Homo sapiens: one gene and its partner. The protein of the gene in region 1 interacts with the protein of each later gene in a biochemical or structural test. Each region holds a gene or a part of one and is shown in the gene's direction. Other genes may lie near its edges. The genes, in order: CYLD and SPATA2.

What was found.
Region 2: the proteins of CYLD (region 1) and SPATA2 form a complex in vitro, tested with the Homo sapiens proteins (one study listed by BioGRID).

What each region holds. Positions count from the first base shown.
Region 1 is NC_000016.10:50,745,015-50,752,290, forward strand, and holds part of CYLD (ubiquitin carboxyl-terminal hydrolase CYLD), read left to right. Parts: intron 1-4,534; exon of another isoform or gene 4,535-4,561; 5' UTR 4,562-4,684; coding exon 4,685-5,188; intron 5,189-6,589; coding exon 6,590-6,892; intron 6,893-7,276. UniProt on the Homo sapiens protein: Deubiquitinase that specifically cleaves 'Lys-63'- and linear 'Met-1'-linked polyubiquitin chains and is involved in NF-kappa-B activation and TNF-alpha-induced necroptosis.
Region 2 is NC_000020.11:49,905,529-49,912,804, reverse strand, and holds part of SPATA2 (spermatogenesis-associated protein 2), read left to right. Parts: exon of another isoform or gene 1-2,353; intron 2,354-4,212; 5' UTR 4,213-4,314; coding exon 4,315-4,650; intron 4,651-5,959; coding exon 5,960-7,186; 3' UTR 7,187-7,276.

The sequences.
Region 1 (7,276 bases):
ATTATTGTGTTTCAACTCGTTGGTAATTTTCATTCAGTATTTATTACCAAGATATTCATAATCACACAGTTATCCAGCCTGAAGTAAGATAGTATTTAGATGAGTCATTTGTGATATACTCACTCAAAGTGATTCAACCTGCAAAATAATAAGAGAATACAAGTGAAAATTTCTCCCTTCACACTGACCCCTCACCCCCACCTGCCCTACGGTGACTTTGAATTTAGCTGTGCTTCTTTTTCCTTCAGTTGTCTTACTGTTCCCTAGGCCTTTACTTAAAGGCAGAAGCTGAGTGAATGTGGATTGATGTTGGGTTTTTTTTTGTGTGTGTTCTCTCTTTCCTCTTTGTTTTTTTTTTTTTTTTTTTTTTTGAGACCAGGTCTTGCTCTGTCACCCAGGCTGGAGTACAGTGGTGTGATCATAGCTCTCTTCAGCCTGGACCTCCTGGGCTCTAGCGATCTTCCCATCCTCCAGAGTAGCTGGGACCCTGAGTAGCTGGGCCCACAGGCAGACACCACCACACCCGGCTAATTTTCTTTTCTTTTTTTTTCTTCCTTTTGGGACAGGCTCTCATTCTGTCACCCAGGCAGGAGTGCGGTAGTGCTATCACAGCTCACTAAAGCCTTGAACTCCAGGGCTTAGGGGATCCTCCCACTTCAGCCTCCAAAGTGCTGGGATTACAGGAGTGAGCCACTGTGCCTAGCCTAGATGATGTAGTTTTCAGTATCTAACTCTGTACTGAAAGCGTAAAAAATACCAAACTAACAAACCAACCTTCTTGATGATAAATAACTCATTTACAATGTGATTTAGATCTTTCCCTTCATATTGTGTTGAGTCAGTTTTTACTGCTTGGGGTACCTAAGACTTTAACTATTTAACTACTATGCACATCCCAGTGAAAGTAGACTGTTGGTGTTATATTCACTTCTACAGTGGGGAGAAATGTATGTTAGCATATTTTTATTGCAATACTGGTATTTTGAGTACATAAAATAAATATATATATATAATGGAGTGTGTATATATGTGAGAGAGTGTGTGACAGGGTCTTGCTTTTTCACCCAGGCTGAAGTGCGGTGGCGTGATCATGGCTTGCTGCAGTCCCTCCCTCCAGGGCTCAAGCCATCCTCCCACCTCAGCCTCACAAGTAGCTGGGACTACAGGCACATGCCATCACACCTGGCTAACTTTTGTACTTTTTGTAGAAATGAGGTTTCACTGTGTTGCACAGGCTGGTCTCAAACTCCTGGGCTCAAGCTGTCCACTCACCTTGGCTTCCCAAAGTGTTGGGATTACAGGCGTGAGTCACTGTGCCTGGCCGAGAATATTAGTGATCATTCAGTTGATTGCCTTGTATATCTCTAGACTCGAGCCGTAAAGTTTCCCATTCAACTTTCTCTATCAGTTGCAGTGAAGAGAATCAATTTTTAATAAGAGAGTTTCAAACTTGTTCTTAATATATTCTTTCTGAAAGAGGAAAGGCTGTATCCTTTATTTTTGGATAATGCTTTTGAAATATTTGATAACTTGTGCTTGACTATTTTAGTTGTCTAACATGACCCATCCTATTGCTAAGTCTAAGCTCATTTCCACTTGTGCTAATGAAAGTTAGGAAAAAAGTTACCACTCCTTGTAGAGTTCACTTTAAAATATGGTACTTGAAAGCTATAGTTTATTACCCTAAAACATTTTTATAAACCTAGCAGTTATATCAATTTTTACTGTGGATTCTCTTCCTTAAATTATTTCAGAAAGCAAGCTTATAATCAAATTTATTTAACATAATGTCCTAATGCACATATAGTAATTTAGTTTTGTCTTAATAATAGATTATTAGCATTAATGATTTTTATTTTAAATTGTGACATGAATAGTTAAGCTACAGGACCAATAGAGTAGGAGCTGTTGGTATAAAGCAATTATTAAGATTCAGGGAAGTTTCTGATTGTAATATTTGAAGACATTGTTCTTAGGAATTTTAAAAAAGAATTTCTTTTCAAAATAGAATTACTTTACCTTTTTCAAAAAAATTTTGGCCCTAAAAATCTAAATACATTTTAAAGAGAACCAAAACAACAGCTCGTTTTTTTGAAAGTTGCTTTTTGACTGTCTTAACCTTCTGCTAGTGACCAGACTCTCTATTCAATAAAGCCTATGTGCCCTTTGCTCCTAAAGACCCTTTCAGAATGTATGCATTCCTCTTTTCACGATTGTTGCTTTGTGTTTTCAAACACACAAACATATTTCACTACCTGGCTTCTCAGAACTGATTCGAAGCGATAAGTTGGAAAGCAACAAGGCCGTAAAAGGAGTCAAATGCATACAGCAGGAAACCACAGAAAATGGCTGATTGCAAGGGAAAACTCTAGACAGTAGATCTGTAGAAAGCATTCGCGACCTCAGGAAGCATAAGATACAGCCTTTTAACAAAATAACAGCCTTGCAGATCAAGAGTTATGCAAAATAATTTACAGTCATAATGATACATCAATGATCAAGAAAAAAATAAGGACATTTTCTTGTGGAAAGTGTTGACATGTTAAAAGCATTTTGGTCAAAAAGAACCAACACTTCAGTTTGGTCCTTTAAAGGAATCCAACCAAATTGAGGGGTTGGATAGCTGTTTGGGCAGCCCTTATAAGGAGTTTTGTTTATATTGTGTCAAGATAGAGGTTTCCACAGGTGTCTTATATAAGTGGCAAATATAAATTGATCCCATTCTTGCTGAAGTAGACAGTGCCCTCAAGTGGAATTAAAACAAACACACCACAAAAAAGAAGAAAAGAGAACCACTTCATGCTACCTCTGCTTTTACCCTCACTGAGTGTTACACAGATATTTCAGTCATGTTGGTTTGAAGGAGGTGCCTAACCTGTATCCTGTCTTGGCTAAACCACATGTCTCATGCTGGCTTGTAGAGGGAGAGACTTTTAGGAACGTTACCATTATGGAATACTTCATTATCTAGCAGTGCTTTCTAAAAGAAGTGTTCCACTGTGTATAGATTTGCCAGGTTGTTTGATCATTAAGTGATTAAATCTAAAATTTGGTTCTTTAGGAGTATTTATTTTTTAATTGCTAGAATAAAATAAATATGATAGTGCTATCAATTGCAGCCATTACCCAGAATAATGGAAATGGATACCTCTATCTCAAGGAAGGATGAAATGAAAGTACTGTCTTTGGAAACCAGATAGCCACATTCTTATGACAGGGATACCTAGGAAGTATTGTTTTCAGCAGAAAATTAATTAAAATAATGAAGTAAAGTCTCAGTTTAAATTAATGAAATTGTGTAGTTTTTTAACCATCAGTTAAAATAGGTTTGAGAATGAGCCTACTTCATTGGAAAGATTATTATTCTTGTAAAAATTTTAAATGAGGACCAGGTGCAGTTGCTCATGCCTGTAATCCTAGAACCTTGGAAGGCCAAGGTGGGAGGATCATTTGAGTCCAGGAGTTTGAAACTGCAGTGAGCTATGATCGCACCAATGTACCCAAGCCTGGGTGACAGAGCGAGACCCTGTCTTAAAAATAAATAAATAAAATAAAAATAAATGAAAATTTGAAAAAGAAATAATAGAAAGAAATTATAATGCAGTTATATCATGATATTCCCTTGCTATGTAGTACAAGTTTTGATGCTACAAAATTGATTTTTAAAATATTTTTAATATAGTCATATTATAATATCTGATATTTGCGATTTGAGAAATCAGATAACTATGATTAATGTGATGAACATTGCCCATCTTCAGAAAAAATATATGAAATGAAGTTGAGTCAGAGGTAAAATGTTCCATTATCACAATATGGCCATATCATAGCTATCATTTATAGGCATGAGCCACACAGCTCAGCCCGAAACGCTACTTTTAAAAGTTTATTAGTGTCAGAATATGGGACAGGCCTGGTGGCTTACGACTGTAATCCCAGTGCGTTGGGAGGCCAAGACAGGAGGATTGTTTGAGCCCAGGAGTTCAAGACCAGCTTAGGCAACATAGTGAGACCCTGTCTCTACAAAAAATAGAAAGCTTAGCTGTGTGTGGTGATATGCGTCTATAATACCAGTTACTCGGGAGGCTGAGGTAGGAGGATCACTTGAGCCTGGAAGGTCTTGGCCACAGTGAACTGTGATTGTGCCACTGCAGTCCAGCATGGGCAACAAGAGTGAGACCCTGTCTCAAAACAAATAAATAAAAATAAATTAAAAAAAGTTAGAATATGTATATAAGGGTAATCTTTAAAAGTTTTTACTAGAATCTGATTTTATAAATTTCAGTGTCTTGGAAGCAAACATTGTGTTGTCTTTGAAAGTACTTTACAATTGGATTTCATTAATTAAATATGCACAGTTACAGTAGATAAAAGTAATACAGTATGTATGTCTTTTAGCCCTTTTAGATATTTTTTGAAAATATTTCATTTGTGTGTATGTGTTTACTGGTCAAATGAAAATTTTAAAAGTCTTCAGTCTTAATTTTCAGTCATGTAGAATGAAGTCTAAAGTTTATTTTTGCTTTTTCACTAGGCATTTTGATTTCCTTTCTTTTTACAGCATGGACACCACGTTGCTGAAAACATGCTTTGGGACTGCCACTGAATTTATCTTTTGCGGTTTTATGACAAAGTTATTAGTAGTTTCCCTTTTTTGAATTAGTATTTTGAAGTTAATATCACAATGAGTTCAGGCTTATGGAGCCAAGAAAAAGTCACTTCACCCTACTGGGAAGAGCGGATTTTTTACTTGCTTCTTCAAGAATGCAGCGTTACAGACAAACAAACACAAAAGCTCCTTAAAGTACCGAAGGGAAGTATAGGACAGTATATTCAAGATCGTTCTGTGGGGCATTCAAGGATTCCTTCTGCAAAAGGCAAGAAAAATCAGATTGGATTAAAAATTCTAGAGCAACCTCATGCAGTTCTCTTTGTTGATGAAAAGGATGTTGTAGAGATAAATGAAAAGTTCACAGAGTTACTTTTGGCAATTACCAATTGTGAGGAGAGGTTCAGCCTGTTTAAAAACAGAAACAGACTAAGTAAAGGCCTCCAAATAGACGTGGGCTGTCCTGTGAAAGTACAGCTGAGATCTGGGGAAGAAAAATTTCCTGGAGTTGTACGCTTCAGAGGACCCCTGTTAGCAGAGAGGACAGTCTCCGGAATATTCTTTGGAGTTGAATTGCTGGTAAGTTTGATAAACCATTTTAGTAGTGTGTTTGTTTGTGTTCATGTGTGTCTGTGTATTTGTATGCACATACATATTTTTCTCCTTAAATACGAAATAAATTTTCCCAAGAGTCTTCTGTAATTTTTAATATTCATCATCCTTGCTGATGAATCCATGTTGTGGTTGAATCCATAATCCAAAACTTGCTTATAGTTGTCACTGATAATATGTGTGAAAATCACCTTGGCGTTTATTTCTGTTGGAAAGAGACCCAAGAACTCTGTGATATGTTTCCAAGCTTAATATTCATTCTTGAGAACTTAAATGTCAATTATATTTTGACATTCTTGCAAATAGAATTGTATGCCTTCTTTGCTTCTTGATTTAATTTCTTTTGTTTACTTTTTAATGATGAATTGCGAAGATGTAAAGATGATGTCGAAACTTAAAAAACTATGTACTATGGTAGGAACATACAAAGAGATTCACCTGGCTATTGCAGACATATATATTTTAGAAATTTTAACATTGCCTGTATTAAACATGAACGCTACCAGTTGTAAATAGTTACATAAAAAATTGTTAATTACCTTGCGTTATCATCTATAGGTTTCTTAGTTCTTCTTAATGTATGTTATTAAATAACAATTTAGATATAAGATTTTTGAAAAAAAAGTTGCAGAAATTTAAACTTGCTTATAATTGTCCCCGATAATATATGTGAAAATCCTTAGAATTTATTTCTACCGGAAGGAGACCCAAGAATGCTGTGATATGTTTCCAAACTTAATATTCATTCACAAGAACTGAAATGCCAATTACATTTTGACACTCTTGCCAATAGAATTGCATGTCTTCTTTGCTTCTTGATTTAATTTTTTTTAAAAGCAGTGATTGTAAACAATTAGGAATTTGAATCCCAGTTAAGCCATTTACTAGCTGGGTTGCCAGGTTACTTAACAAAGCTACTTAACTTCTCTCATTCTGCATCCTTACCTGTACAATGGTGTTAATAGTACATGACTTGTAGTGTTTTTGTGGTACATTGATGCAGGATTTAAGCACAGTGACTGACAATAAGTGCTTAATGAATGGAGCTAACATTACTGCTATTTTAAAGTAACATTTTCTTTTTATAACCAAATTAATGTTAGAATCACAACGTGGAATTCAGCCTAGCTTTCTCATGATAGAGTTATGAATTGAAATTATCAGATAATATTATTTCAGCATCAGATACAACTTCTTATTTTTTAAAACACTCTAAATCCAACAGAAACTGCTAATAATTGTATTTCTTATTATATGTATCATTTAGAAATTTTCCAGAGTGATTTTCCTGAAATCCCTAGAGTGAACCCCTTTTCCTATGGATCGTCTTTCTATATCTATTTCTTTCCCTTCTCTCTTAAAAACTAGGAAGAAGGTCGTGGTCAAGGTTTCACTGACGGGGTGTACCAAGGGAAACAGCTTTTTCAGTGTGATGAAGATTGTGGCGTGTTTGTTGCATTGGACAAGCTAGAACTCATAGAAGATGATGACACTGCATTGGAAAGTGATTACGCAGGTCCTGGGGACACAATGCAGGTCGAACTTCCTCCTTTGGAAATAAACTCCAGAGTTTCTTTGAAGGTTGGAGAAACAATAGAATCTGGAACAGTTATATTCTGTGATGTTTTGCCAGGAAAAGAAAGCTTAGGATATTTTGTTGGTGTGGACATGGTAAGAAAATTTTGGATTAAATATCTTTGTGATATATATATTAGTTTATATATATATGTATATATATATATAAACATATATATACACACATATATATACACACATATATATGTATAGTTTATATATATATGTATTAGTTTTAGGACCAATTTACTTGCAAATTGAACACTTTGAATATTTAACATGATCTAATTTGGAGTACTTTAAAGAACATGTTCTAATTTATCTTTGGTAAAGGAGCATTGAAATAGAACAGGGGTCTAGATACAGATTACATTTACTTTTTTTTCCCATTTGAATAAACTAGAATAATGTTCTCTATCTTTAAATTTGCCTTATTGTAGCTGACCAGTAGACAAAACAAAACAAGACAAAACACAATTA
Region 2 (7,276 bases), on another chromosome or scaffold:
TTGTGAGTATTTTGAACATCAGCTGGGCTGTTTGGATCCCTTTCCTTTATTTATTGTTTTTCAGCAACAAACAAGGGTGTGGACTGTGGTGCGATTATAGAGCAGCAGACGCTGAGCCGAGCTTGAGACTGGCTGACTTTGTAAAAAATCAGTCTCTTTGAGTTCAAGGCTGACTTCCTTGGAGAAAAATTACAGCAGTATTCGGAAGCTTAATGTCTCTGTGTTTGAATGGTTCTCAGACTACCAAAAAACAGACCCTGGGGCCAGAGGCGTGATGGCAGCTTCTCTTAGATAAGTCAAGAATGGTAAATGCATGTGTGACTATCCTCTCCAGTGGTGCAATACATTTATTTATGTAGAGATGGAGTTTTTGCTCTGTTGCCCAGGCTGGAGTGCAATGGCACGATCTCAGCTCACTGCAACCTCTCCCTCCTGGGTTCACGCCATTCTCCTGCCTCAGCCTCCTGAGTAGCTGGGATTACAGGTGTTCGTCCAGCTAATTTTTGTATTTTTAGTAGAGGCGGGGTTTCGCTATGTTGGCCAGGCTAGTCTCAAACTCCCAATCTCAGGCGATCCACCCACCTTGGCCTCCCAGAGTTGTAGGATTACAGGCGTGAGCCACCGCGCCTGGCCTGCATTTTTATTTTTTAAGAGAATATACATTTTAAATTGTTTATTTTTTTATGGACAGAACAGTATGAAGTTAGAGCACATACCTACTTTGATACTAGGTGGTATGCTCTTCCAGCTAGAGCTGCAGGCAGGATGTGTCTCCTTTATTGCTGTCCTCTACCTGTCCCACCCATCCCCATTCCCCGACTGGGTCCAGCTCAGGCAGAGGGTGGGGGCTGCAGAAATGCTTGCTGGACATGGGAATCGTGGGGTGGTGAGAGGAATACAGGTTCCAAGTCAGAAGGCCAGGCTTGGATTATCGGGTCCATCATCTGCTAACCTTGAGCTACTTGTCGTACCTCATGCCATCTTTCTGAGCCCGTTTCTTTGCTCTCCAGCTGATCTCCCAGGATTCTTGGGAGGTACCAATGAGAAACTAAAGTGATGGCATCGTGAATGCAGACATCCTTTGCAGCATCCATTTCTCTTTTTCTCTTTTCTTTTTCTTTTTCTTTTTTTTTTTTTAGAGACGGAGTCTCGCTCTGTTGCCCAGGCTGGAGTGCAATGGGGCGATCTCGGCTCACTGCAGCCTCCGCCTCCTGGGTTCTAGCAATTCTCCTGCCTCAGCCTCCCGAGTAGCTGTGATTACAGGCGCATGCTGCCACACCCGTCTAATTTTTTTTTAAATTTTGGTAGAGACGGGGTTTCACCGTGTTGCCCAGGCTGGTCTCGAACTCCTGAGCTCAGGCAATCCACCTGCCTCGGCCTCCCAAAGTGCTAAGATTACAGGCGTGAGCCACCGTGCCTGGCTGCAGCATCCATTTCACCTACTTTATCAAGCACAGGCAGGCTCTGTGTTAGGCATCGTGGTGAACAACACAGACATGGTCCTTGCCTTTATGGAGCTTACCACGAGCTTACCAGCTTACCAGGGAGGGTGAGGGGTGGACAAAGAGAGGAAGCTAATGAATGAATGAAGTTGATAGTTTCAGATTGTGGTTATCGTAGGAGAATGTGACAGTGTGGAACTGGGAAGGTGAGATAGGGTGGTACCTCTAGAGGCTGATGTTTGAGCTGAGGCCTGAATGATGAGAATCTTCCTGAAGCAGAATTTTATCCCAAGTGGATTTTGTTTTCTTTTGTAAAGACAGGGTATTGCTATGTTGCCCAGGCTGGTCTCGAACTCCTGGCCTTGAGCAATCCTCCTGCCTTGGCCTTCCAAAGTTTAGGGATTACAGGCGTGAGCCCCCGCACCTGGCCCCTAAATGGATGTGTTTGCCTCCTGTACTCCTCAGCCTTATTTGTCACTGTAGCACTGGGCTCCCTCAGCAGTGCAGTGTGTTGGAGACAGTGGCCTCTCTGTGTCCCTAGTTTTGCTACACATCCCACCTCTCACCGCACCATTAGTACTCCCAGGAGTCTCCTCCTGGGGACAAAATCTGTGGAGGAGCCAGACTACTGGCTCTTTGAGATGAGGATGATTTTGTTGACCTCCTGATAGTTGCTGGGCTCGTAGGACCTTCCTAGCTGAACACAGGTCTGCTAAAGGAGTCCCCCACATGCCAGGCCCAGTCCTGCTGCAGCTTCTCTCAGCCCCTTGCTGTCTCCCACACTCAGCAGACATGAAGCACACAGGTCACCTTACTGAGCAAGATGGTCACAGGCCTGCACCCACGGAGCTTCTGGGCAGGAGCAGCAGGACCAGAGCATGTGAAAATGCACATCTACCACCCAGTCAGAGGTATTTGCCCCACTCAGAGAAGGCCTGTCCACTTAGGGGTACAGCACCTTCAGACAACAGCAATGGCCATCAAGGACTTCCCGGAGCCGGCTCTCTGAGCAGCTTCATATTCCATCATGCATAATCCTCTCGCCAGCTCTGGACAGAGGCGCTATTATTAACCCCGTTTTATAGGAGAAAACCGACACCCAGGGAGGTGGAGCAATTTGCCCAAGTAACCTGGAGAAGCAGCCCTGGCCTCACTCGCAGGTGCCTGGCCTTGGACCCCGTGTCCGTGACCCTGCGCGTGTTGTCTCCCCTGGCCCTGGCAGTGTCCCTCCATTAATCCGGATTCGCTCCCAGCGTTGTGGTGACAAGAATATTGCTGGATCTGTGCCTGTTCTACTAACAAGTGGCTAAGCAGATGACAAGATTGTGTAAAGCCTGTGTCCCAGCTCAGAACATTCTATCCTCTCCCAACAGGGGGCTGTCAAGCGCTCTGGTGATAAAGGGGCCGCAGGCTGTCAAAGGCCGGTAACAGCACTCCAGGGGCCGGTAGCCACGGTGGCCTCTTTTGAAAATTGTAAATAAGACCGTATCTCTCTCCCCTCGCTGTAAACTCTTCAGTGGCTTCACGTGGCTCTTTGTATAAAATATCGAATTCTGAATGTGCTCTTGCGGCCTTGGGGCTGAGGGTCCCGCTGATGCTGGCATCTGCCTCTCCTCATGCCCCTGCCCTCGTGGCCTCGGCCTCACTGGCTGCAGTTCTGTTACTGTTCCAGGCTTCCTGCCTCAGGAAAGCAGGGTGTGGTGGGTAAGGGCATGGACTTTGGAGCCAGATTGCCTGGGTTCTGAGCTCAGCTTCTCTGCCTCCTGAGAGTTCTATAACCTTGGACAGTTTCTTTTTCTTAAAAATTTTTTTGTATTTTTGTAGAGACGTGGTTTCACCGTGTTTCCCAGGCTGGTCTCGAGCTCCTGGACTCAAGCCATCCTCCCCCGTCAGCCTCCCAAAGTTCAGGAATTACAGGTGTGAGCCACTGTGCCTGGCCTACCTTGAGCAGTTTCTAATGTCTGTGTCTCAGTTTGCACATGGTCCACTGGGGCTGCCTGTAGCGTCTCTCTCCTAGGATTGTTTAAGAAGAAAAAGTGAGGCTGGGTATGGGGGCTCACACCTGTAATCCTGGCACTTTGGGAGGCCAAGGCTGGTGGATCACTTGAGGTCAGGAGTTCGAGACCAGCCTGGCCAACATGGTGAAACCCCATCTTGACTAAAAATACAAAAATTAACCAGGCGTGGTGGCAGGTGCCTGTAATCCCAGCTACTTGGGAGGCTGAGGCAGGAGAATCGCTTGAACCCGGGAGGCGGAGGTTGCAGTGAGCTGAGATCACGCCACTGCACTCCAGCCTGGGCTACAGAGCAAGGATCCATCTCAAAAAAAAAGTAAGCGAGTTAGTGTGTGTGAAGCTCGTCACGTGTCTGGAGCCTCTGGTACTATTAGCTCAGGGCCTTCCTCTACTGCGACTCCTTCCCCGGCCTCTTGGCCTGGCAGACTCCTCATCCTTCAGGTCTGTTGCTGTCTCAAGAGGGCTTTCCTAAACTCGCCCTTCCCCAACGAAACCAGGACAGGAGCTCCTGCTGTACTCACCCGAATTTCTCTTTCAGGAATATTAATCGTATTTTTCATTTGTGAGCACAACAAAGTCAAGGTCCATCTCTCTCTGGCCTCTGTTGTAACCCTGCTTGTAGTACATGCTCTGTAGTGTGCTGCTGGGGTCCAGTGTAGCCCAGGCCAGTTCTGCTGTTCATTTTGCCTCAGCGACCTGAAGCCGAAGCGCGACCGTATCGAGGAATGACATGCTTCTTGTTCCCCTCCTTCCAGAGCACTCCGCTGGTCCAGGCGGCAACATGTCCATGCTTTTAGTGATGTCCCTGCCTCTAATCCAGAAGCCATGGAGGAGATAAGGTAGCCCCCCTCGATCGGATGGGGAAGCCCAGTTCAATGGATACTAAATTCAAGGATGACTTATTTCGGAAGTACGTGCAGTTCCATGAGAGCAAAGTGGATACCACCACCAGCAGGCAGCGGCCTGGCAGCGATGAGTGCCTGCGGGTGGCAGCCTCAACCCTGCTCAGCCTGCACAAGGTGGATCCCTTTTATCGATTCCGGCTGATCCAGTTCTATGAGGTGGTGGAGAGCTCCTTGCGCTCGCTCAGCTCCTCTAGCCTGCGGGCTCTGCACGGCGCCTTCAGCATGCTGGAGACGGTGGGCATCAACCTCTTCCTCTACCCGTGGAAGAAGGAATTCAGAAGCATCAAGGTGAGGTCCTGGAGCAGCCTCCATACAGGCCCTCCTTCTCTCTTCCTGCCCCTGGCAGTCCCTCCTGAGAGGCTATGCCAGTCTGATCCCATCCATCCTGTGCTCTCAGATCCTTCCGGGCTCCGAACCTTCCCCGTCTCTCCAGCATCACCTCTGAACCGTTTCTGGCCCGGCTGCCACACCTTAAGCAGAGAAGCTGGGAAGGCAGGGGCAGCCAGGTTATGCAGGGTCTTGTGGCCCAGGGCAAGGCTTGGATTTGTTCTGAGTAGGCGGGGAAGGAGGCAGTGTGGGATCTGGCTTGCATCTGAAGAGGGTCATTCTGGCTGTGGTATGGGAAGTAGGCTGTAGAGGGGTGGGGGGAGGTGGGAGGGATGGGGAGAGCAGTTAGGAAGCTTCTCAGCGGTCCCAGCAAGCTGAGGGGTGTTCTGTACTAAGTGGGAACAGTAGAGGAGGAGGGGGAATTGAGAGAGGGATCCTGAATCAGACCACGCGGGGGATGGCACAGGAGAGCTGTCACCTAGCCAGGCTTCTTCATTCTGCCATGGGAGGAGTGGTAATCAAGAGAGGGGATGGCACAGGAGAGCTGTCACCTAGCCAGGCCCTTCAGTCTGCCGTGTTACTCAGCCCCTCATGGAAATACCAGAGAGGAACGTTCTGATTGTCACCGCGTTCTGCCTGTAATCTGGCCCCTTTATTCAGCCATGTTTGCCCAGGCTCTCTCTTCATATGGAGTAGAGTCTTCGTGCCCCACTAGGAAGCGAGAGGTTTTGCTTCCTGTGTTTAACAAAGTAGCTGCTGCCAGGCGCGGTGGCTCACACCTGTAATCCCAGCACATTGGGAGGCCGAGGCGGGTGGATCACGAGGTCAGGAGTTTGAGACCAGCTTGACCAGCACGGTGAAACCCCATCTCTACTAAAAACAGAAAAATTAGCTGGGCGTGTTGGCGGGCGCCTGTAATCCCAGCTATTCAGGAGGCTGAGGCAGGAGAATCGCTTGAACCCAGGAGGCGGAGGTTGCAGTGAGCCAAGATCGCACCACCGCACTCCACCCTGGGCAAAAGAGCGAGACTCCGTCTCAAACAAAAGAAAGGAGCTGCTGGGTCATTTCCTTGCACAATTCCTGAGTGCTTAGCAAGCCCCAGCTCCTGCGTCTTCTGCCTCCCGCAGGGTGAGGCTGTCGAGATCCTTCCCTGCCCTGCCCTCTCCCCGCCGCCCCACTTCAGAGCTGGACATCCTTTGCTTTGACATAGTCTCTGTCTTGTGTCTCTGACAGAAAACCCCACCTTTCTTTTCTACTCCCTCCCTTCTAGACCTACACGGGCCCTTTTGTTTATTATGTCAAGTCGACATTACTGGAAGAGGACATCCGAGCCATCCTGAGCTGCATGGGCTACACACCTGAGCTGGGCACTGCATACAAGCTCAGAGAGCTCGTGGAGACCCTCCAGGTGAAGATGGTCTCCTTTGAGCTCTTTCTGGCCAAAGTCGAGTGTGAGCAGATGCTAGAAATCCACTCACAAGTGAAGGACAAGGGCTACTCCGAGCTGGACATTGTGAGCGAGCGCAAGAGCAGTGCAGAGGATGTGCGCGGCTGCTCGGACGCCCTGCGGCGGCGGGCAGAGGGCCGGGAGCACCTGACGGCCTCCATGTCACGAGTGGCACTCCAGAAGTCGGCCAGCGAGCGGGCGGCCAAGGACTACTACAAGCCCCGCGTGACCAAGCCCTCGAGGTCAGTGGATGCCTATGACAGCTACTGGGAGAGCCGGAAGCCACCCCTGAAGGCCTCATTGAGTCTTCGGAAGGAGCCTGTGGCAACGGATGTGGGGGACGACCTCAAGGATGAGATCATCCGCCCATCCCCTTCGCTGCTGACCATGGCCAGCTCCCCCCACGGCAGCCCGGATGTGCTTCCACCCGCCTCCCCCAGCAACGGCCCGGCCCTGCTGCGCGGTACCTACTTCTCCACTCAGGATGACGTGGATCTGTACACAGACTCTGAACCCAGGGCCACCTACCGTCGGCAGGATGCTCTGCGGCCGGATGTGTGGCTGCTCAGAAACGATGCCCACTCCCTCTACCACAAGCGCTCGCCCCCTGCCAAAGAGTCCGCCCTCTCCAAGTGCCAAAGCTGCGGGCTGTCCTGCAGCTCCTCCCTCTGCCAGCGCTGTGACAGCCTGCTCACCTGTCCTCCAGCTTCCAAGCCCAGCGCCTTCCCCAGCAAGGCCTCGACTCATGACAGCCTGGCCCACGGGGCATCTCTGCGGGAGAAGTACCCAGGCCAGACTCAGGGCCTCGACCGCCTCCCGCACCTTCACTCCAAATCCAAGCCCTCCACCACGCCCACTTCCCGCTGTGGCTTCTGCAACCGCCCAGGCGCCACCAACACCTGCACCCAGTGTTCAAAAGTCTCATGTGACGCCTGCCTCAGCGCTTACCATTATGACCCCTGCTACAAAAAGAGTGAGCTGCACAAGTTCATGCCCAACAACCAGCTGAACTACAAGTCCACCCAGCTCTCCCATCTCGTGTACAGATAGACCGGCCTCGCCCCTTCCAGCTCCAAGGGCTACATCAACCGACCTTTCGGGTTTCACGGTGAAGAAGTACTAACGCATTGATCTCAGAGG